3 separate regions of the Homo sapiens genome follow, and all the other regions are linked to region 2. Evidence: fine-mapped expression QTL. A gene starts in region 2. Each other region holds a variant in brackets. All regions are shown on one strand. Distances are from middle to middle. Region 1 has its middle 75 kb from the start of LINC00621. Region 2 holds the start of LINC00621 (long intergenic non-protein coding RNA 621). Region 3 overlaps LINC00621 (long intergenic non-protein coding RNA 621).

The links.
Region 1: its variant is fine-mapped to the expression of LINC00621 in cerebral cortex (GTEx, PIP 0.95).
Region 3: its variant is fine-mapped to the expression of LINC00621 in iPS cells (HipSci, PIP 0.95).

Annotation. Positions count from the first base shown.
Region 1 is chr13:22,836,806-22,844,992 of GRCh38, forward strand. It overlaps the pseudogene IPMKP1. Among named protein-coding and RNA genes, the nearest start is that of LINC00621, 75 kb to the right of the region's middle. The variant C/G (reference allele first, on the strand shown) is at 4,754.
Region 2 is chr13:22,911,820-22,920,006 of GRCh38, forward strand. LINC00621 (long intergenic non-protein coding RNA 621) reads right to left here and starts at 4,550. Exons shown (of 3, transcript NR_138043.1): 1 at 3,899-4,550. It also overlaps the pseudogene NUS1P2. RefSeq lists an enhancer at 3,357-4,270.
Region 3 is chr13:22,869,985-22,878,171 of GRCh38, forward strand. It overlaps LINC00621 (long intergenic non-protein coding RNA 621), which reads right to left. Exons shown (of 3, transcript NR_138043.1): 3 at 6,408-6,490. Among named protein-coding and RNA genes, the nearest start is that of LINC00621, 42 kb to the right of the region's middle. The variant C/T (reference allele first, on the strand shown) is at 3,102.

The sequences.
Region 1 (8,187 bases), 75 kb before region 2:
AAGTTTCTTTATTCTTCATAGCTTTCTAATGAACAAATAATTAGTTTTCCTGAGAAAGAGTATAAAAAAGTTAACCTTTCTTCCAAAAGTATAAAGACAAATAAAATGTTGACTCACAATACAAATTTTTTACATAGCATTAAAGGTGCAGAGATATTGACTGCTCCTCTTCATTATGATTGGCCCACCCCTTAAAAAGACTGCAACAGAGGATTCAATTGTCTAAAATACTTCGAAGTACAGAAATTAAATGCTTTAGCCCATAAATATATCCCTCATCTATTGTGCTGCTAGGGAACACATGAGCAAAATCTATCATTCGCACTCCTACTTCAGCAATCTCTTGGCAACCAGTGGGAAGATGGTAGAAAACTTTTTCCAGTTGGGAAAGTACATTTCCATTTAAATGTTCTGTGACATGCTTTTCCACTCATTGTCTTGCTCCAGATTTTCAACTTTCATTGAAGTCTGACTGTGATGGTTTTTGTATACATTTTCCTGTGACGAGCATACATCTTGGACAAGTTTTTGCCCACTTAAGCCTCTATTTTTCCATTCACTGTGGAACTTAATACATGAAAGTTATTATTGTACTCTAGTACCTCTGTGTCTGACAGTTGTCCTTTGGACAAAAACTTTTCTGCCAAAGTTCTGTCATTCAATTTTGTAGTGGTTGGCTGAGATGAACTTTCATAAACCAATAGTAATGAACTTGCATAAAAGTTAAGCTGCTTCTGGTTTTCAAACCACTGCAGAATTTTCTCAATCTTCTGAATACTGGCAGCAACAGCATCTTTTCTTAAGCAGTACCCATTATGAAAAAATCCGGAGACTCCATCCTTTGTAGTTCCTTTTGTTAAGCTTCTTCCATAATGCTGGTTTTGTATATCATAGCTATCGGAATGAACATGGTAAACCCTCATGCCAAGCACCAAGAAACCCAATCTCTTCCATTAATGGGTACTTGCTGAATCTTCTCAGATGAGGCAAAAGGATCATAGCTTTTTTGCCCTATCTTTATATTCATTATACAGGGCTTATTAAATTTATGTGTCACATCTTCCAGTTTTAGGTATAAATCGTTTGGTGCAGTGGGAGGTGACCAGATGCCATATTTTGGCAAATATTTTCGTAGCTCTAGAAGAACACCATCAGAACAGTCAGCAGCATAAACCGTATGCTCTCTTGGGCCCCTTGGAGGTGGTTGTAACTGTTTCAAAGCTGTGCCATCTGAGTGTTGCAGTATACCCACTTTGTCCTTCCCGTTCATGTGTCCGGCCACCTGATACGAGAGGGGCACTTAGCCGTTGAGGAGGCGGAGTCTGCCGCCCGCCGGCTGCCCGGTGCCCTCAGGGATGGCCTCGATCGCCGGTGGGGCCCGCATTTCCGGGGGGCTGGCGCCTCGACCCGGAGGGGTGATGGTGGCTCTTTTGCCATAACCGAGAGCAGAAGCGGTAGCGGTAGCGAGAGCAGGAAAAAAATAGGGCGAGGGAGGGGGCGCCGGAGAACCCGAGGGTCGCTCAGGCTCGGGCGCGAGGAGGCCCGGGGGTTCCCGCGGCTGGTGCCCGCTGAGGCCCCGAGAGGGGGCCCATGACAACCAGGGGAGGGGGGGCGTCTGCCCAACTCTTGGCGGAGCGCGGCTCCCGGCTCCGGCTCCTGTGCAGCCGCAGGCCCCGGCGCTGCCCAGTAGACAGACTAAGCAGGACTCTCTTAATGTCCCTTAAGTCTTTTGGTTCTTGTTTTACAGGACATATCAATTAGATTGCAATTAAGGAGGGATCTCGGAGAGTTTCTCCCTTCTGGCAGCTATGATGTACAGTCATATCAGGCAGGCAGACTAATCATTGTGTCATTAATCTGATGGCCAAATGCTTAGGTTCCTGAGTATAATGGAAAACAAATAGTGGCAGCTATCTCCTAGTGTAATGTATAAAAGAACTTAAACCTTTGTCTTTATGGATGGACAGATGTCACACAAGATTAAAACAAAAAATTACTTCAGATGCTGATAAAGCATTGGGCTCACATCCCAACTGAAGTTAACTCTGCAGCGAGACAATGGGGGGTTATGGGAAGCTTTGTGGCACACTAAAATGTGTATGAATGACCACTACACATTTGACCTTAGTATAGAGGACCCGACAATTTGGGGTACAAAGTATGTATTTTTATTGTTCCCAGGCAATTAGCACTCAACAACAACAGCATGTGTAGTGGATTAAAAGACACTGGGCAACAAGATGAAAGAGAGCTCTTTGTGAAATAGGTATGGGTATAGGCATGGTAAGACAAGCAAAGTTTTCCTTCAGTATAAAGGACATTCAAAAGAAAAAGATCAATAGCAAAAATAGACAAGTTGGAAGAAATTATGTTCAAACAGTAAAGAACAGAATCTATTGATGCTGCTATGATGTGAATGCTTGTCCCCTCAGAAACTCCTATTGAAACTTGATCCCCAATGTGGCAATATTGAGAGAAGGGGCCTTTAGGAGATGATTGAGTCATGAAGGCTCTACCTTCATGAGTGAATTCATTCATTCATAGATTAATAGGTTAGGCCAGGTGTGATGACACATGGTGGATGGCTTCCAGCACTCTGGGAGGCAAGGCAGGAGGATCACTTGAAGCTAGGAGTTCGAGACCAGCCTGGGCAACAAAGCTAGACCCCACCTCTACAAAAACATACAAAAATAAGCCAGGTCTGGTGGTATGTACCTGTAGTCCCAGCTACTGGTGTGGCTGAAACAGGAATATTGCTTGAGCCCAGGAGTTCAAGACTGCAGTAAGCTATGATTGCACCACTGCACTCCAAGCTGGGTGACAGAGTAAGACCCCATCTCTAAACAAACAAGCACAGGTTAATAGGCTACTGGATTAATGGACTGTCATGGGAGAGGGACTGGTGGCTTTATAAGAAGAGGAAGAGAAACTTGAGCTAGCAGATTAGCACACTCAGCCACTTCACTATGTGATGCCTGCCTTGGGACTCTGCAGAGAGTTCCCAGCAGCAGGAAAGCTCTCACCACATGCAGCCACTCAACCTTGAACTTCTGGGGACTCCAGAACTGTAAGAAATAAATTCGTTCGCTTTATAAATTACCCAGCCTCAGATTTCAGTTATAGCAACATAAAACAGACTAAGACAGATGCCCTAGTAAATCAGGTCATAGAAACCCAATCTACCATATTAGAAAATGACAAAACACAAAAAACTCATTATCGGAAAAGAGCACACAAGCTAGTCCAACAGAGCCTTCAAATCATGTTTCTTGAAATGGAGGTCAAATGAGTCATAGGCGGTGACCTACCGTTTTAGTTGCAGCAGAAGCTCTAGAAGTACACTTCTGAAAAATACGTGATCTCCTGAACTTATGAAAATTTTCTTGAGGCAAAGGCAATTTATATCAATGTTCCCTAAATGCTCTTATTCCAAGAATAAACCAAGACGTGACATATTGTGTAAAGAATATAATAAACAACACATGTATACTCCTTGTGGAATCAAGGAGAGCTTTTTTACATATGTAACACCAGATGGGAACCTTGTATCTGTGCAAACATACTGACAGAGGCTAAGAGATTAGCTTTGTACCAGTTAGCCTGAAATCCAGAAGTAACAGAATCATAAGACACTGGTAACAATCCCAGCTCATAATAATATCTAGTATATGGGTAAAGTCCAAATCTACTAACATGATTTTAATAATGCTATAATGCTCACCCAATTATTTTCTAACAATACGAAAGTATAGCATAGGGCTGGGCGCGGTGGCTCACGCCTGTAATCCCAGCACTTTGGGAGGCCGAGGCAGGCTGATCACGAGGTCAGGAGTTCGAGACTATCCTGGCTAACACGGTGAAACCACGTCTCTACTAAAAAAATACAAAAAATTAGCCGCGCGTGGTGGCACGCGCCTGTAGTCCCAGCTACTCGGGAGGCTGAGGCAGGAGAATGGCATAAACCCAGGAGGTGGAGCTTGCAGTGAGCCGAGATCACGCCACTGCACTCCAGCCTGGGCGACAGAGCAAGACTCCATCTCAGATAAATAAATAAATATATAATAGCACTGTGGCTCATACCTGTAATCTCAGCACTTTGGGAGGCTGAGGCTGGTGGATCACAACGTCAGGAGTTCGAAACCAGCCTGGCCAACAAGGTGAAACCCATCTCTACTAAAAATATAAAAATTAGCTGGGCGTGGTGGCACTCACCTGTAGTCCCAGCTACTCGGGAGGCTGAGGCAGAAGAATTGCTTGAACCCAGGAGGCGGAGGTAGCAGTGAGCTGAGATCATGCCGCTGCACTCCAGCCAGGGCGACACAGCAAGACTCTGTCTCAAAAAAAAAATAATAATAACATAATAATACTCCAATATGGTGTAAAATTGGGATTATTGGTAAAATTTGGCTATCTTATATAAATGCATCAAATGATAGTACTAATGTTGAGTGAATATACTGAGAAATTGAGTTAAAACTTCCTTGGGTTGTAATATCAATAGAGACACTAATTGGCCTGAGGAAGAATGAGATTTAATTAATCAATTAATCACTATAATAGGTGTTTCTGCAGAGTTTTCTCATAAAGTAAGATAGCCATAGATAAGTAAAAATCAATAATTAAGTTTATATAACAGTAAAAAGAAATATGTTGTGGAACATTGAATTTAACAGATTATTTCTTTAAGTCTGCCCCCCTTCCTCACTAACTTCTGCAAATGATGCATGTATTTGCATTACCATTCCTGTTTTAC[C/G]CTATAAATAAATGGTACACTACATGTAGATTTAATAGTGTTATAAATAATTTCTTTGTAAGGTGAAACTGACTAAGGGTCAGAGGTAAACTGCAAGGAATAAAATAACTCAGCAGGTCTGTTTTATCATTTTTGCTTCTTTCTGTAGCCATTGTAATGCCTCCTGGCTAAGTGCTGAGAACCAAGTCCCGGCATGTGCACATGGTAACTGGTTAATGATATTATTCTGCATGCCCAAGGCAGTGGTCAGGATGCATCAGACTGTCAGCATTATGTAAGGTAAACCTGAAGGTTCATGATGTGATCCTGATGCCTGGTTTGGGACACTATTGCTGGTCATGTAACCATGTGACCAGTATGGATCACAAGGATCAAGTGAGCTTCCCAAAGTTGAGACATCTTGGACATGACTTTTCTGTTTGCAGCTGGAACCCTCATATGCTGGTCCATGCAAGCCTCATATGTTGAGTCGCGTAATTTCTCCAGTGAATCACCAAATTTGTGAGTAGTTATATGACTTCCCTAAACAATCAAAGGATCTGCATTAAACCTATAAAGTCTTTCACTAAATTCCCTCAACATTTCTGACCCAGCACCATAGCTGTGGATGTTTCAGTGGTATTTACATATAACCCAAAGTACATTCCTAAAGAAAGTAGCCATTTTTATCTTTTTCAGCAAGATATAGTTGAATCCATCTAATATCACCATTGCCACTACAAGTAAGCTATCATTAAAAATCTTTGCTATTTTAGCCAAAAATAAAATAAAATAAAATAGGCGAGATGAAATATTTTTTCAAATAGTTATTTGCCATTTTTATTCACATTTTGGTTAAATTGTATAATTTTTGTTCTTTATCTTAGCAGTACTTTTTTATATATTTAAACAAATTCAATATTTTGCCTGTCATCTTAGTTGCAAATAATTTCCTAGCTTCCTAGATCAGAAATTTTGCTACAACAAATACAATCCTTTACTCCAATAATATATTTTACTTGGTTATTACTAACATATAAAAAGTATTGTCTTTATGTACTTATTTAGAAATTATATTAAAGTTTTCGATGGATTCAAGTGGATTCTCACTAGATTCTAACAGTTGTTTCCCAGGCAGTACTCAGTAAAGTTTAAAATGATCATTTCTCCCTTATTCATGTCCAGGTTAAATAATAATTATTCCTAACTTTAAAAGTGTCTGCTAGTATTTCTTATTTAAGAATGTTATCAGGTTTAAAATTGAGATGTTATAAAGAATATTTAGGTCAGGCACGGTGGCTCATGCCTGTAATCCCAGCACTTTGGGATGTCGAGGCGGGCAGATCACGAGGTCAGAAGTTCAAGACCAGCCTGGCCAACATGGTGAACCCCGTCTCTACTAAAAATACAAAAATTAGCCAGGCATGGTGACGGGAGCCTGTAATCCCAAAAAAAGAATATATGATAAGTTTGATTTAATGACTTCAGAAGATATTTACATAGTGATGCACTATTTCTCATTTGACAGTTGGTGTGAAATCCCGAAAGTCTGTTCTCACTCTGCACAGTAAGTAGTGCAGGACTGTAAGAATAATCCATGCTGAAATCATGCAAACCAATCTTTTTTTTTTTTTTTTTTTTTTTTGAGAGGGAGTCTTGCTCTGTCGCCCAGGCCGGAGTGCAGTGAGGCAATCTCGGCTCACTGCAAGCTCCGCCTGCCGGGTTCATGCCATTCTCTTGCCTCAACCTCCCGAGTATCTGGGACTACTGGCGCACACCACCAGGCCCGGCTAATTTTTTTGTATTTTTAGTAGAGACTGGGTTTCATCGTGTTAGCCAGGATGGTCTTGATCTCCTGACCTCGTGATCCACCAGCCTCCGCCTCCCAAAGTGCTGGGATTACAGGCGTGAGCCACCACGCCCGGCCGCAAACCAATCTTATTAACTAATGGGAAGATTATGATTATTCTAGGGCCTTAAAACTTTTGTGAATATATTGAAAAGAATCTGTTGCTGTCAGCTACTAACACACATTACTAAAGCTAAGTTTATTTAGTACACTATAATTTAAGAATTGGAAATGTTGATGATTGAAGTGTTTCATTGCTTTATTTAAAACTTCCAAAGAAAAGTTTGAATGGTGTTTGCCTTCCTCTCCTCCTCATATAACTTTTGCTATGGAGTGCTCATCTTTTCTATGCCTGGGTTTATTGTCACGCTCCACGCTCCTTTCTAAGTCTGGATCAGATGCTCACATTTAATCCTTTGCATCTTTGGTCATGCAGTATTTCTGAAAGCCCTGTAATGTGAAGCGATGTTTCGCCAATGTCACTTACTCTGGGACATCTTTGTCCTTTATATCATAACCTCTCTCCTCCTTTGTACTGATAAGCTCACCTTCACTAAGTTCCTCTGGCTGCGTATCTAGTGTCAGTAGTGTCAGCCCCATGGTCAGTTGTTTCTTCTGTAACTCCATTTACTTTTGTTTCAACTTTTACTTCCAGCATTACCTCTTTTCATTTCATTTTACTTTTATCTTCACTGTTCAACTCTCTTTTCCCATTGTCCACTTACTTTTACATTCAGAGAGCAGATTCTTTTGACTCGACAGAGTCTCACTCTGCTGCCCAGACTGGAGTGCAATGGCGCGATCTCGGCTCACTGCAACCTCCGTCTCCCGAGTTCAAGTGATTCTCCTGCCTCAGCCTCCAGAGTAGCTGGGAATACAGGCGCACGCCGCCACGCCCAGCTAATTTTTTACATTTTAGTAGAGACGTGGTTTCACCATGTTAGCCAGGCTGGTCTCGAACTCCTGAGATCAGGCGATCCACCCTCGGCCTCCCAAAGTACTAGGATTACTACAGCCGTGAGCCATCGCGCCCAGCCTTTTTCATTGTTTATTCAGCAATTTTTCATATTTATAAGTAACATCAGGCACTACTTTTTTCAGTAGCTTGTTTTTTCTACTTTCATGTGCCATTGACGTTAGAAAACTTGATGAAATGGAACAGAGGAGCTTCATGCTTTCTACGTTTCTGAACAACAAGTCGTACATCTGGGAAATAACTTTTTTTTTTTTTTTTTTTTGGCGGGGCGGGTGGGGACAGGGAACGGAGTTTCACTCTTGTCGCCCAGGCTGGAGTGAAATGGCTCAATCTCAGCTCACTGCAACCTCCACCTGCCGGGCTCAAGCAAGTATCCTGCCTCAGCCTCCCAAGGAGCTGGGATTATAGGCGCCCGCCACCACGCCCAGCTAATTTTTGTATTTTATATTTATATTTATAAATATATATATATTTTTATTTATATTTATATTTATAAATTTTGTATTTTAGTAGAGACAGGGTTTTACCATGCTGCTCAGGCTGGTCTCCAACTCCTGACCCGCCCACCTCGGCCTCTCAAAGTGCTGGGATTACAGGCGTGAGCCACCATGCCCGGCTTGGAAATAACTT
Region 2 (8,187 bases):
AAGAAATCAAAAGAGAAATTGGAAAGTTCATTGAGCTGAAAATGAAAACACGATATATCAGAATCAGGGAGTTGCAGCTAATGTATGCTTGGAGGCAAATTTAAGCACTAAGATCCTATATTATAACAAAAAAGAAAGGTCTCAAATCAGTGACCTGAGTTTTCACCTTCAGAAACTGGAAAGAGAAGAGCAAATTAAACACAATGTAAGCAGATAAAGAAAATAATAAAAAAAACAGAAATCAATGAAAGAAAAAAGGGAAAATTATAAGAAAAATCCAAGAAAGTAAATGCTAATCATTTTAAACAATCAATTAAATTGTTAGACTTCTAGTCAGCTGATCAAGAAAAAAGTAAAAAGGCACGAATTACCAATACCAGGAATGAAAGGGTGGGTGTCACCAAATCTTCTACAGTAATTATAAGGAAACAATGGACTACTGTAAGCCATTTTTTTCTAATAAATTTGATAACTTAGATGAAATGAACACATTCCTTGGAGGGCATAAACTATCAAAGTTCACTCAAGAAGAAATAGATAACAAGAGTATCTATTGACAAAATCAAGTTTTTAATTAAAATCCTAATGACAAAGAAAACTAAAGGCCCAGGTGGTTTTCATGGTGAAGTCTAACAATATTTAAGGAAACAATAACAATTCTACGCAAATCCTTCCAGACAATAGAAAAGGAAAAGGTCTTTCCTTTATTTGATGAAGATAGCATTACTTTCTTACTAAATCAAACAGACATCATAAGAAACAACAACAGAGACCAATAACCCTCATGAACAATGATGAAAATATTCTTACTAAAATTTTAGCAAATCTAGTTCATCTATATCATGACAAAGTGTACTTTATTGCAGGAAGATAAAGTTGATTTAACATTCAAAAATCAATAAATGAACTTTACCATATTAGTGGACTAAAAAGAAAAATGCATATGATCATCTTAATAGAAAAAGCACTTAGTAAAACCCAACATTGAGTCATGATTAAAAGCCCTCACAAAACCAGGGATAAAATGAAGAGTCCTCATAGGATGCAGGCCATCTACACAAAAATCTATGTCTTCCTAAAATTGAGAACAAGGTAAAGATATCTACTCTCATCACTTTTATTAAACATTGTACTGGAGGTTCTAACTCATGAAATAAGGCAAGAAAAAGAAATAAATCATCTAGATTGGAAAGAGTAACACTTTCCTTATCATTTGTGTACACCAGTCCATGGAATCCATGAAATAAAAGCTATTAGAACTAATAAGTGAGTTAGCAAGGTGGCAGAGTTCAAGATTAATATACACAAATCAAGGGTATTTTTATATAAAACAATCAGAAATTGAAATTTTAAAAATGTTATTTCCAATACCATTAACAAATATAAAATTGTTAGCCATAAACCAAATAAAACATGTGGAAGACTTGTACATTGAAAACTGCAAAACATTGCTGAGAGAAATTAAAGAAGACCTAACTAAATGGAACATGTACCATGTTCATGGACAGGAAGACTTGAAGTTGTTAAGATGTCAATTCTCCCAAGTTGAGTTATAGATCAATTGAATATCAATCAAAATTCCAGAAGGCTTTTAAAAGTGAAAATCAATAATTGAACTTTAAGTTTTATATGGAAAAAATGAAGGACCTAGAATAGTGAAAATAACTTTGCAAAAGAAGAATAAAGTTGGAGGACTTACTTATCTGATTTCAAGGCTAAATATAAAGCTATATTAAAACAGTATGGTATTGCCATACATATAGACAAATAGATCAATGAAACACAATAGAGATTCCAGAAATAGACTCACATATATATGGCCAATAGATTCTTGACAAAGTACAAAGACAATTCAATGGAGAAAGTATTGTCTTTTCAACAAATGATGCTGAATCCCCAAAAAAGTGAACTTTGATTCGTACCTCACAGCATATACAAACTTTAATTCAAAGGAATTCATAGACCTTAAACTATAACATTTTTAGAAGAAAATAGAGCAGAAATCTTTGTGACCTTGGATACAACATAAAAAGCATAATTCATAAGAGAACAAATTGATAATATGCATTTCATCAAAATTAAAAACTTCCACTCTTCAAAATACACTGTTAAGAGAATGAAAAGACATAGATCAAGAGGACGTATTTTTAAATCACGTATCTGTAAAGGACTTCTATGCAGAACATATAAAACCCTTGAACCTCAATAATAAAATGCAAACATGCAATAAAAAGAGGAACGAAAGATTTGAACAGACACTTCACCAACAGAAATATTGATGGCAAACAAGATCAGGAAAAGATGCTTAATATCATTATTCAATAAAGAGATGCAAATTGAAACTACAAGTTGATACCACTACACACCTGCTAGAAGGTGTAAAATTAAACAGACTGATATACCAAGTGATGGCAAGGATGTAGAGAAATTAGAAACCTCCTACACTGCTCATGGGAAGGTAAAAATGGCACAACCACTTTGGAAAACAGTTTGGCAGTTTATTAAATAGCTAAATACACCTACCATATGATCCAGCCATTCCACTCCTAGAGAGAGAAAAGCATATGTCTATATAAAGGTTTGTATGCAAATGTTTATAACAGCTTTATTTGTAATAACCAAAAGCTGGAACCAATCCAAATGTTCATCAACTCCTGAATGCATTAACAAATTGCGTTTACTGATAAAATTGAAGACTCTTCAGCCATAGAAAGAAATGGGTTGTTGATACTGCCAAAAACATGGATGAATCTTAAAATAACTTCGCTGAAGCAAAGAAGCCAGAGCTCACAAAAGTATGAGGACATACACTATGCTTCCAGGTATATAAAATTATAGAAAATGCAAACTAACCTATGATAACTGAAAGTATGTCAGTGGTTGCCTGGGGACAGGCTGAGGGTGGAGAAGTGGAGGGAAGGATTACAAAGGGCACAAGGAGAGACTAGGGTGATGAATATGTTTATTATCTTTTTTTTTTTTTTTCCCCGAGACGGAGTCTTGCTCTGTCACGTAGGCTAGAGTGCAGTGGCGCAATCTCGGCTCACTGCAACCTTTGCCTCCCGGGTTCAAGCGATTCTCCTGCCTCAGCCTCCCGAGTAGCTGGGATTACAGGCGTGTGCCACCACGCCTGGCTAATTTTTGTATTTTTAGTAAAGGCGGGGTTTCACCATGTTGGCCAGGCTGGTCTCCAACTCCTGACCTCATGATCCACCCGCCTTCACCTCCCAAAGTGCTGGGATTACAGGCGTGAGCCACTGAGCCTGGCCGATCTGTTTATTATCTTAACTGTAGTGATGGTTTCACAAGCATAAACACACATCAAATTTTGCACTTTCAATATGCGCGGTTTAGTGTATGTCAATCATCCCTCAATAACACTGTTAAAAAAAGAAACATTAAAATTAAATTGTAAATTATCAAAGAAAAAAACACTAAAAGCACTTTTAAAAAGGCATAACTGTAAAGGGACTCTGATTAGATTGAGAGCAAACTTCACAACTGCAGCAATCACGACCACACACAGTGGAACAGTATATTCCAAGTGCTGATGAAAATAATCATCAAAATGGAATCTACCCTGCTGAACAGTGTTCAAGAGATAGTATAAAATGAATGCTTTTTAAAATTATTTATTTTTAGGGCGGGGCTGCCAAGGGAGGAGGAAGATGGCGGCGGGGGCGAGGTGAGGTGTTGGCAGTGGAAAGGGGTTCGGGCTTAGGGGGCGGGGGGACGCGGAGCGATGCCCGCGCCGGCGCAGGGGCGGATAAAAAGCCGTAGCGCCACGGGAGTGGGCGGGAGGGAGAGGGGGTACCCGAGGGCCACAAGAGTATGACGGGGCTGTAAGAGCTGGTGTGGCGGGTGCTGCCCCCCTGCTCTGTCTGCACCGCAAGCTCACCTCCTGGCTCCGCGTTCGGTTCGGCACTTGGAACTGGATCTGGCGACTGTGCCGGCGCGCCGCCTCTGCCGCGGTCCTAGCGCCGCTCGGCTTCACGCTCCGCAAGTCCCAGGCGTCTGCAGGAACCGCCATCACCACCCGCACCCGCGCCGGGGGTCGTGCCTGCCCGCAGCCCACCACCAGGTGCGCTGGCGCGCGGACGGCCCTTCCCTGGAGAAGCTGCCTGTGCACATGGGCCTGGTGATCACCGAGGTGGAGCAGGAACCCAGCTTCTCGGACATCGAGAGCCTCGTGGTGTGGTGTATGGCCGTGGGCATCTCCTACATTAGCGTCTACGACCACCAAGGTATTTTCAAAAGAAATAATTCCAGATTGATGGATGGAATTTTAAAACAACAGCAAGAACTTCTGGGCCTAGATTGTTCAAAATGCTCACCAGAGTTTGCAAATAGTAATGACAAAGATGATCAAGTTTTAAATTGCCATTTGGCAGTGAAGGTGCTATTGCCGGAAGATGGAAAAGCAGATATTGTGAGAGCCGCTCAGGACTTTTGCCAGTGAGTAGCCCAGAAGCAAAGGAGACCCACAGATGTGGATGTAGATATGTTAGTTTACTCAGTTCAAATGGTTGTCCTGATCCTGATTTAGTACTGAAGTTCGGTCCTGTGGACAGCACACGAGGCTTTCTTCTCTGGCACATCAGATTGACTGAGATTGTCTCTTTGCCTTCCCATGTAAACATCAGTTATGGGGACTTTTTCTCTGCCCTTCGTCATTATGCAGCCTGTGAACAGCGTCTGGGAAAGTGGTGGTCATTGGTTGCATAATTTGATCTGAGGCTTATGGAGGAAAGGACCCAAGTGACTCTGATGTTTAGAAAGCACCTATGAAACCCTGTACACACCTAGTTCATAATCCTCATAATTTATCAACAAACACAAAGAAGTGTCTTACTTGAGAGTGAGTGTGTGCGTGTGTGCGTGCACACATGTGCACGTTTGTATGTGTGGAAATAAACATAAATGGGGACGTGTTGGAGAAGGAAATACATAGACCTACAACTTTGAGCATATAGCAGTGATGTTTTAGGAACTGAAATGTCACACTTAATAAAGTCTTCAGCCCAGCTACTTCCCTGTTTTCGTGGGGAGAAGGGGGCCTGATTAGAACTGTTCTGGTTGTGTTTGGCGGGAGGGGAATAAATTTTGTTCAGTCCTTCTTAGTGACCAAACTTTAATTTTTAGGAATAACATATTGACTTACTGAACTGAAGCATTCTGAGTTGAAAGGAGCCCCAGAGGAAAGGAGTTCTGTGTTGCTCACATGTTAAAAGCTTGCTCACCTTCAGAGCAGAGGGAATACCTATCTTCAGATATCCGCCCATTTTCATCTCTTCATTATAGTCAAACAGTGTGACTTGAGAGTGTTGCTCTGGTGTCTGTATTCTGGCTTATGAAGATTATTTGAAAAAGAACTCTTACTACATTGAAATGCAGACTTTTAAAAATTTAAATATTGGATTAGGCAGTCAAAAAACCAAACAAGCATAAAAGGTCAGTAAGTTGTAATCTTAAAAGTAAAGGTGGAAAACTCATTATAAATGGAAGAAAAGTTTTGATTTCCTTTTTTGTTTGATGGGCAGTATGCCATATTATATCCAAAGTTGGTTTAAAAAATACTTCCATCAACTATTTTTATTTAAAATAAACATTTGAGGGAAGTTACCAAGGCAGCTTTTTTCCTCAAAAGTAACCTGTTCCTCTTTGGAACAGCACATTTTAGGGGCATGGTTAATACCTGAGATTTTTACTCAGTAAACCTGATGGTTACCGTGTGTAAAATATCTTTAAGTAGGATTGAAGGCCTCTGTGGGGAATATAATGTTACCAAAGCCTATAAAAATAAATTTTACATGTTCTTTTTTATGACAGAGAGCAGCACTGGTTCTGTTATTTTTTAAAATGAATAACTGATTTCTTGACAGGTGTTTAGTATTTCTTCCCTCACTGCTGATTCTTGGATAGAAACCATTCTTTGTATTTGATAGACTGTTTTCAGAAAACTCTTATCAACAAGTGTACAATAGTTATCTAAAACTGTACATTTAGAATGGAGCAGTTTAATACTAGATCTCAGAAATTTGAAAAATAGCAAAGAAGAGTGGATTTGGAAAGCATGGTCTACAATTGCTTGTCAATTCTGAAGCTATGAAGAATAAATGTTTCAGCTTTGGATTATGAAACCCCGTTTATGATTTTTAAAACACACTTGAAATAAAAATGATTGAACTAAATTTTGGTCCGGTGACATCATTTTGCACTGCATAGCCCATTATACATTGTAAGTCTTTTTGTTTTAATTTATTACTGAGAGTTTTCTGTGAAGCTACAGCATATCTAATCAGAGAATTTCTGATTTGTTTCCTTATACTGTGATTATGTTATATTAAGGCATTTGTAGTGCAGCTTAAGACTGAATTTATGCTTTTTGTAAACATGATCGGTGTAAATGTCTTATAAACATTCTGGAGTATGTATAACTTTAATGAATGAAATTTAATGGACCTGATTAAAATAAAGGGATTTAATCTTTGTTAAAGTGAAGTTAGTGGAATAAATTACCTACTGGAATATAGTCCAAGTCACTAAAGGTTTAATATTTGCATTTTTGTGCTTTTATTTTCTCCTTCCATTCATAATTATATACTTGAAAGTACATCTGTAGCCTATGACTTGAGTCTCTTGAACTTCTAGGAAGAGGCAAACTACAAACTACTAGGATTCTGATTTCAGATATAGGCATTCCAGAATCTTCTCTTTACGAGTTCACCTGCTAGTATAATCTCCACAACTTGAATGGCCTTGGTTGTTCTGTAATTGCTGCCAAAATCATCACAAGCTGTACGTCATCAAGGCTCCCTTTGCACTCCCAAGAAGAACTGTTCATTTTAAACAAAAGTGTATGTCTTTATTTGTATTGGAAAATATTGTCTTTAAATTGTTTCTTGTTGACACTTCCCACAATGGAAAAATTACCAAATTAAACCTGTTTTATGGATGGCAGCTTGGAGCATAGCAAGAAGTTGGAGGATTTGAATTCCATTCCCAGTTCTCATTGCGTTTTGTTTCTTAAAACTATAATAATTGGTTACTGTTATAAAGTTTAAAAGGTGGTTTTAATATGAATAGCAAATTCTGGTATATTGTGACTAACGCTTAAGAATGCCTGTCTTTGAGAGGAAGGTGTTATAATATTAATCAACAGTGCCAAATACACTGTGCATATCTACAATTTAATCTTTGAATGTTTGTTACTGGATTAGCTCCCTCCTCCTTCTGTGTGATGGTACCATGCATAGAGTCAATCAAATCCTTGTGATGTTTTGTATGGACTTTGACAACATGTAACTAATGTGTAAAGCAAGTTTTTATGATTAAGGAATCAAATTTATTGAATTTTATTATTGAAAGTTGAAACTTAACATGTATAAACAAAAAACAATAAAATAATAAACTATTTTCATTGACTATAAAAATTATTTATTTTTAAAAATTCATACATAATACTGTATGTATTTGTGGGGTACGTATTGGTGTTTCTATACATACAATGTATAGTAATCAGATCAGGGATATTAGCATATCTGCCATCTGAAATATTGATCATTTTTTGTGTTGGGAGAATTCAATGTCCTCTTTTAGCTATTTGAAAATATATATTCTTGACTACAGTCATCCTACAGTGCTATAAAACATTAGAACTTATTCCACCTAACTGTAATTTTTTGTCCTTTAACAAATCTCTCCCTATATCCCCCTTCCCTTTCCACCCTTGAATAACCTGGATTCTACTCTTTACTTCTATGAGATCAACTATTTTAGCTTCTATATATGAGTGAGAACATGTTTAACTTCCTGTTCCTGGCTCATTTCACTTAACACCATTTCCTCCAGGCTCATCCATGTTTCCATGGAGGACAAGAATTCATTCTTTTTATTGCTGAATAGTATTCCACTGTGTGTGTGTGTGTGTGTGTGTGTGTGTGTGTAGGTGTGTGTATGTGTGTGTATAAAATCATATTTTCTTTAGCCATTCATCTGTTGATGGAGACTTGGGTTGACTCCATAGCTTGGCTATTGTGAATAGTGCTGCAATGGACATGGAGTATGGACAACTCTTGGATGTACTGATTTTCTTTGCTTTGGTTCTTTACCCAGTAGTAGGGCTGCTAGATCATATGCTAGTTCTATTTTTGTTTTTTTGAGGAAACTCTATACTATTCTCTACAG
Region 3 (8,187 bases), 42 kb before region 2:
TTCCTAGCCTGGAGGATATGAAAATATATCTAAATCAACTGCAAGGACCATGCCACCTTTAGAGAGTGATCTAGAAGATCAAGCCCACACATTGAGTTTGGCAGAGAAGAAAGAGGGCCTTAGCCTTACTGAACTGCTGGACTTAAAAAACCTTGGACCTAACCTGCCTTTGCACTTATTTTGACATTTACTTTCCTATTAATCCAGTTGATTTTTTTTAACTTACAATGTAGATATATAGATGATACATAAATCACTTTAAATGACAGGTTAGAAAACATTTACTTCAAGTAGCCATATTATATGGTGAATACTGTCAAAAGATTCAAAATCATTATGTGATGGGCCTGGCCAAGACAATGGTATGCATCAGGGATCTGGAAGAACCAGCACATTCAAATTGGGCAGGCTGAGACCAGCTTACAAAGGTCTGGGTAGGATGCAGGGAATTCCCAAGTGATATGGTTCGGCTGTGTCCTCACCCAAATCTTATCTTGCATTGTAGCTCTCATAATCCCTGTGTGTCATGGGAGGGACCCAGTGGGAGGTATCTGAATCATGGGGGCAGGTTTTTCCCATGTCGTTCTCATGATAGTGAATGTCTCACTAGATTGGATGGTTTTATAAAGGGCAGTTCCCCTACACATGGTCTCTTGCCTGCCGCCGTGTAAGACATACCTTTGTTCCTCCTTCACCTTCCTCCATGATTATGAGGCTTCCCCCGCCATGTGGAACTGTGATTCCATTAAACCTCTTTTTCTTTATAAATTACCCAGTCTCGAGGTATGTCTTAATGCAGTGTGAGAATGAACTAATATAGTAAACTGGTACCAGTAGAGTGTGGTGCCGCTGTAAAGATACCCAAAATGTGGAAGTGAATTTGGAACTAGGTAACAGGCAGAGGGTGGAATAGTTTGGAGGGCTCAGAAGAAGAAAGGAAAATGTGGGAAAGTTTGGAACTTCCTAGAGACTGTTGAATGGCTTTGACCAAAATGTTGATAGTGATATGCACAATAAAGTCCAGGCTGAGGTGGTCTCAGATGGAGATGAGGAACTTGTTGGGAACTGGAGTAAAGGTCACTCTTGCTATGCAAAGAGACTGGTGACATTTTGCCCCTGCCCTAGAGATCTGTGGAACTTTGAACTTGAGAGAGATGATTTAAAGTATCTGGTAGAAGAAATTTCAAAGTGGCAAAGTGTTCAAGATGAAGCAGAGCTTAAAAGTTTGAAAAATTTGCAGCCTGACAATGCAGCACAAAAGCAAAACCCATTTTCTGAGGATAAATTCAAGCCAGCTGCAGAAATTTGCATAAGTAACAAGGAGCCAAATGCTAATCACCAAGACAATGGGGAAAATATTTCCAGGGCAAGTCAGAGACCTTTGCAACAGCCCCTACCATCACAGGCCCAGAGGCCTGGGAGGGAAAATGGTTTCCTGGGCTGGGTCCAGGGCCCGCCTGCTGTGTGCAGCCTTTAGACTTGGTGCCCTGCATCCCAGCTGCTCCAGCCATGGCTAAAAGGGCCAAGGTACAGCCCAGGCCGTGGATTCAGAGGGTGCAAGCCCTAAGCTTTGGCAGCTTCCACATGGTGTGTTGAGCCTGTAGGTGCATAGCAGTCAAGAATTGAAGTTTGGAAACCTCTGCCTAGATTTCAGAGGATGTATGGAAATGCCTGGATGTCCAGACAGAGGTGTGCTGCAGGGGCAGAGCCTTCATGGAGAACCTCTGCTAGGGCAGTGTGGAAGGGAAATGTGGGGTGGAAGCCCCTATACAGAGTCTCCATTGGGCACTGCCTAGTGGAGCTGTGAGAAGAGGGCCACTGTCCTCCAGACCCCAGAATGGTCGATCCACTGACAGTTTGCACCATGAACCTGGAAAAGCCACAGCCACTCAATGCCAGCCCGCGAAAGCAGCTGGGAGGGGAGCTGTGCCCTGCAAAGTCACAAGGATGGAGCTACCCAAGACCATGGGAACCCACCTCTTGCATCAATGTGACCTGGATGTGAGACATGGAGTCAAAAGAGATCATTTTGGAGCTTTAAGATTTGACTGCCCTGCTGGATTTTAGACTTGCATGGGGCCTGGAGCCCCTTTGTTTTGGCCAATTTCTCTTATTTGGAATGGGAATATTTATTCAATGCCTGTACCCCCATTGTATATAGAAAATAACTAACTTGCTTTTGATTTTACAGACTCATAGGCGAAAGGGACTTGCCTTGTCTCAGATGAGACTTTGGACTTGGACTTTTGGGTTAATGTTGAAATGAGTTAAGACATTGGAGGACTGTTGGGAAGGCATGATTGTATTTTGAAATGTGAGGACATGACATTTGGGAGGGGCCCAGGGAAGAATGATATGGTTTGGCTATGCCCTTCCCCCAAAATCTCATCTTGAATTGCAGCTCCCATAATCCCCATGTGTCATGGGAGGGATTCAGTGGGAAGTAATTGAATCATGCGGGCGGGTTTTTCCCATGCTGTTCTCATGATAGTGAATAAGTCTCATGAGATCTGATGGTTTTATAAAGGGCAATTCCCCTGCACATGCTCTCTGTCTTGCCACCATGTAAGATGTGCCTTTGATCCTCCTTCACCTTCCTCCATGATTGTGAGGTCTCCCCAGCCATATGTAACAGTGAGTCCATTAAACCTCTTTTTCTTTATACATTACCCAGTCTCAGATATATCTTTATTAGCAGCCTAAGAATGGACTAATACACCAAGAGAGAGTATAATGCCCCAGGGCCAGGGCCACTGTGACCTGTGGTAACAATGGATGGGCACAGTTACTGGGACCTGGAGCACAGAACATGTGTCAAGATGCCAGTTGTCAGGAGCTGTGTGGCAGTTATCTATTCCACAATAAAACTGGGGATATCAATATCCACAAGATATCAATAAAATTGATTATCTCACAGTTTCTGTGGTTCAGGAATCTGAGAAGGGCTTACCTGGAGGCCTCTGGCTCAGTCTCTCAAAAGCTGCCATCAAGTCACAGGCCAGGGTCATCTCAAGGCTCACCTGGGGAAGGATCCTCTTCTAAGCTCACACATGTGGTTGCTGGTATTTGGAAATGGAGTCCTTGGAGGTTATAGGTTTAGG[C/T]GAGGTCATGAGGGTGGGACCCTCATGAATGGGGTTAGTGTCCTTATAAAAAGGAATACCAGCAAATTCTCTCTCTTTTTCCCATGTGAGGACACAGCAAGAAAGCAGACATCTGCAAATCAGGGAGACAGCCCTCAGCAGACACAAGACCTGTTGACGCCTTAATCTTGGACTTCCCAGCCTTCAGAACTGTGGAAAATAAATGTTTGTGGTTTAAGCCACCCAGTCTATGATGTTTTGTTATAGCAGCCTGAATTGACTAAGACAGATACCTTGAAAACCACCATCCCCTGCTGAGCAATATTGTTCTGCTCCTTAGGCTGATTTCAGTTTTCTTTCACTTAGCATTTCATAACTTTAATTTGCTTGTTAAAAAATTTATCTGGATCTTTTATTCCCTTTATCCTAAACTTCAAACCACCCACTTTCTTTTGCAAGTTTTCTGTTTGACACCATTCACTTCCTTTTCTTTCTCCTTCATTCATTTCTCCCTTTCTCCCTCTTTCCCTCCCTCCCTCCATTCCTTTTGTCCTTTCTTCCTTCCTTTCTTCTTTCTTCCTTTATTTTTTTCATCTGACTCTTTCCCTGGCAATTGTCCTTGGCTCCTTCGTTTACAGTAGTCACTCTTGATGGTGAGCATTTTGAATCTCCAAATGACTATGAAATCTTTTTATTTCTCATTAGCGCATGCAGGTAGTACATGTGTTTCAGTAAAATTGAGGAAGCCTGGCAGACACTCTGTGGTCTCTGCTGCATTTTCTCTGGAATAGCTACAGCTCTGTGTAGCAATATGGTTAAGGCACCATATTGTGTGAAGGCCCACCTAGCCTGGGCATCACTGTATCTCTGTCTTCCTAACAAAATGAAGTGGAAATTTCAAAAAAATCAGGAGATGGAACAAAAGTTTTCTCATGTTTTTTACTGCTTATTAAATGAACAACGAACAATAATCCAATGTTAAATGTAAAGTTTTCAGCCCTCTGCCTGAATAGGCTCACCTAGTTATTTGAACATGCCTCACTCCAAATCTTGTCCTCAGCAACTGTGGATAAATCATGACAGAGAAGTTCCCCTAACCTACAGCAGAGGCTCCTCAAGCTATGCCACCCTACTGATATAGAAGTGGAGAAAGAGTGCTGGGCGTGGTGGCTCACGCCTGTAATCCCAACACTTTGGGAGTCTGAGGCAGCGGCTCACGAGGTCAGGAAATCGAGACCATCCTGGCTAACACTGTGAAACCCGGTCTCTAATAAAAATACAAAAAATTAGCCGGGCGTGGTGGTGGGCGCTTGTAGTCCCAGCTACTTGGGAGGCTGAGGCAGGAGAATGGAGCGAACCCGGGAGGCGGAGCTTGCAGTGAGCCGAGATTGTGCCGCTGCACTCCAGCCTGGGCGACAGAGCGAGAGTCCGTCTCAAAAAAAAAAAAAAAAAAAAAAAAAGAAAGAGAAAAAGAAAAAAAAATAATGGAGAAAGAGGTGTTCTGGCCCATTTAGTTACATTTTCCAGGGCAAAAATCACGGATACATGGTGAAATTCAACTATATTCTCTGCCCAAGATAAAATCCAATTACAGCCTCTGCTCAATGAGGAAATCCCATCACAGGTTCCTTTTGCTTCACTAGGAGACAAAGAGACAAGTTTGTTTATAATCTATTTATAGAGGCATACACACCTTAAAAAAAAGTGGTCCTCAAGTAGGAGATTTGCATTTGTTGGTCATTTTATTTCTGGGCAGATGTTCAGTCTTTCTAACTTGAAAAGTGTCTAGCAACTTTGGCTGACCTTATTAAGATTAATGGTCATAATGTATTTAAATCCCCTGTTGTTCTAAGAAGGATTAAACAAAAGTTATGGGAGGCCCTTGTTTTAGACTGAGCTATTACAAATTGGGCCACAAGAGACCAGACTAAACCAAAATGGAGTCACTCATGCTAAATACCATATAATTAAACTGGAACTCTAAGGAAACAGGTAGATCCCACATCAGACTTGTTTTTCCTGAAATCAGGGGATACAAGTCTGAGTCAGTATACTAAAAAAGTCCCCTCTGCTTTAACGCTTATGAACAAAGTAACCTGCAGGAACCTGAAGTTAACCAGTCAGCTTTTGTTCTATTGTTCTACTTCCTTGTTCTCAGTATGACCTCTCATTCTATTTTGTAGTATGGAGGCATCTCTGATTAACAAATCATGAGAAGAAAGCCAATTAGATAACCAAATAATTATTATCTCTTACTGAAATAACTCCCAAGGACCTTTGGCAAGATCTAGCACTAACCAAATTTTCCCAGAAAAAAATTTTGGGAAAGGACTATTTGTGGATTGTAAACCACTACTAGGGCAGATCCCAACTGATTAGAGATGGATTTTGAGGATGCACTCAAGAAAAAGAAGCACAAGTTAAAGTAGTACCTGTCACCTGTGCTTTTTCCAAAGAAGGTTTTGTGAACTTCAATATTTAAACAGGAAAGAGTAAGAAGGAGTGGAAGAAACAAAAGGAGGGAGGGTAGGCATTGATGCAAGTGGTGAGGCATTGATTAGCACTCAGTGAATCTATATTTTACACATGCAAAGAAGGGCGTAGAGGAAAAAGTCAATTATGCATTCATTTCATGCTCAGTAAATCTATATTTTCCGTAAGATAAAGCAAGCATGTGAAATCATGGTTCTTTCTGTTTGGGAACAAAAAGAAGGCAGTTTTATGCGTGACTCAGTTCCCACTCTTAACTTTTCGCTTTGGCATAGTGAGACGGGAGTCCTAAGACGTTATTTATTTATTTATTTATTTATTTATTTATTGACGGAGTTTCACTCTGTCGCCCAGGATGGAGTGCAGTGGTGCCATCCCTGCTCACTGCAACCTCTGCCTCCCAGGTTCAAGCGATTCTGTTGCCTCAGCCTCCTAAGTAGCTGGGACTACAGGCACCTGCCACCACACAGGCTAATTTTTGTTTTTTCAGTAGAGACAAGGTTTTACCATGTTGGCCAGGCTGGTCTTGAACTCCTGACCTCAAGTGATCTGCCCACCTCGGCCTCCCAAAGTGCTGGGATTACAGGCTTGAGCCACCGCCCCTGGCCCAGCCAAGGATTTATTTGTGCCTGCAGATAGCTGTATGAACAGACACCTGTAAGAATTGGGGGAATTCCTCTCTTCTCAATGTTCCAAAGTAACTTGAGGTTCCGGGCCATTCAAAGGTGAAATTTTTTACTCACCACAGGTCAGGAGCTTTGTAAAGGAATTGCATGCAGAGGGTACCATGCCAGTTTTTCCAAGGGGTTTTTCTCAGCCCTTAAAGTCAATTTTAATTCCTCAAAGCAGTCTGGTTATTTCTGAAAAAATGTCATTCCAGTCAAAGACTTGATAAAATATCCAACGTCTCCAATTGGGTTCTGTTACAAGAGAAAACAGATTCTTATTGAACTTATGCAAATAATTATATTGCCATAAATTAAGGATTGTCAAAAATAGTTTCCAAATTCGGCTGGGCGCAGTGGCTCATGCCTGTAATCCCAGCACTTTGGGGAGGCCGAGGAGGGCGGATCATGAGGTCAGGAGATCGAGACCATCCTGGCTAACACAGAGAAACCCCGTCTCTACTAAAAATACAAAAAAATTAGCCGGGCGTGGTGGCGGGGGCCTGTAGTCCCAGCTACTTGGGAGGCTGAGGCAGGAAAATGGCGTAAACCCGGGAGGCAGAGCTTGCAGTGAGCGGAGATCGTGCCACTGCACTTCAGCCTGGGTGACAGAGTCAGAGTCCATCTCAAAAAAAAAAAAAAAAAAAAAAAGTTTCCAAATTCTGGAGAAATCAGGTAAAAGAAAAAGAAACGTGGCTGGGCGCTGTGGCTCACACCTGTAATCCCAGCACTTTGGGAGGTTGAGGCAGGTGGATCACAAGGTCAGGAGATCGAGACCATCCTGGCTAACATGGTGAAACCCTGTTTCTACTAAAAATACAAAAAAATTAGCTGGGTGTGGTGGCGGGTGCTTGTAGTCCCAGCTACTCAGCAGGCTGAGGCAGGAAAATGGTGAACCCGGGAGGTGGAGCTTGCAGTGAGCTGAGATCGCACCACTGCACTCCAGCCTGGGTAACAGAGCAAGACTCCGTCTCAAAAAAGAAAATAAAAGAAGAAAAAGAAAAAGAAACGTGTTTCAGATTCTGGTCATAAGAGTATACTTTACTCAATTGTTAAAAATTATAAATAGATCAAAAGAAAAAAGCTATCTTTTTAAAGTAATTTCTATTTTTATTTTAGATTCAGGGGGTATATGCACAGGTTTGCTACCTGGGTATATTGCATGGTGCTGAGGTTTTGGGTACAAATGTTCCCATCACCCAGGTAGTGAATATAATACTCAGTAGTTTTCAACCTATGCGTCCTCCTTCCCTCCTACCTCTAGTAGTCCCCAGTGCATATCATTGCCATCTTTATGTCCATGAGCTCCCAAATGTTTAGCTCCCACTTGTAAATGAGAACATGTGGTATTCAGTTTCCTATTCCTGCATTAATTCACTTAGGATAGTGGCTGCATCCATGTTGCCGCAAAGAACATGATTTCATTTTTTATGGCTGCATAGTACTCCATGGTGTATATGTACCACGTTTTCTTTATCCAATCCACTATTGATGGACGCCTAGGTTGATTTCATGTCTAAAAGTTTTCTTGACTGAAAAAAAAAATCAACAATGCTTCAAACAAAAAGGGTTATAAAATATATTTCAGTCCTCTGTTAGTTCAGTTCTATGAAATTAATTCATTTCATTTGATATTGGGATTAGTAATCCTCATGAACACAGTAGCTCTACAATGAGAGTTCTGGAAGTTTGTTTCTCTACTCTACTGATGAAATCTCCAAGGTTGTCAGAAACTTACATTTGAAGCACCCATCAGAATCCTTTCTGTGAACTACCCTAAAGAAGCAAGTTTTGGACTATAGCTGATTATTAACTGCTTTTTGAGAAGAATCAAATAAAATAATAATTGTCTGTGGATGACAAAAGTTTTAGGACAGCCATGGTTAAAGATAAGGAAATTTGGTTATTTCTGTGTCATACTAAAATTTAACTTAATAATACTTATTTTGATT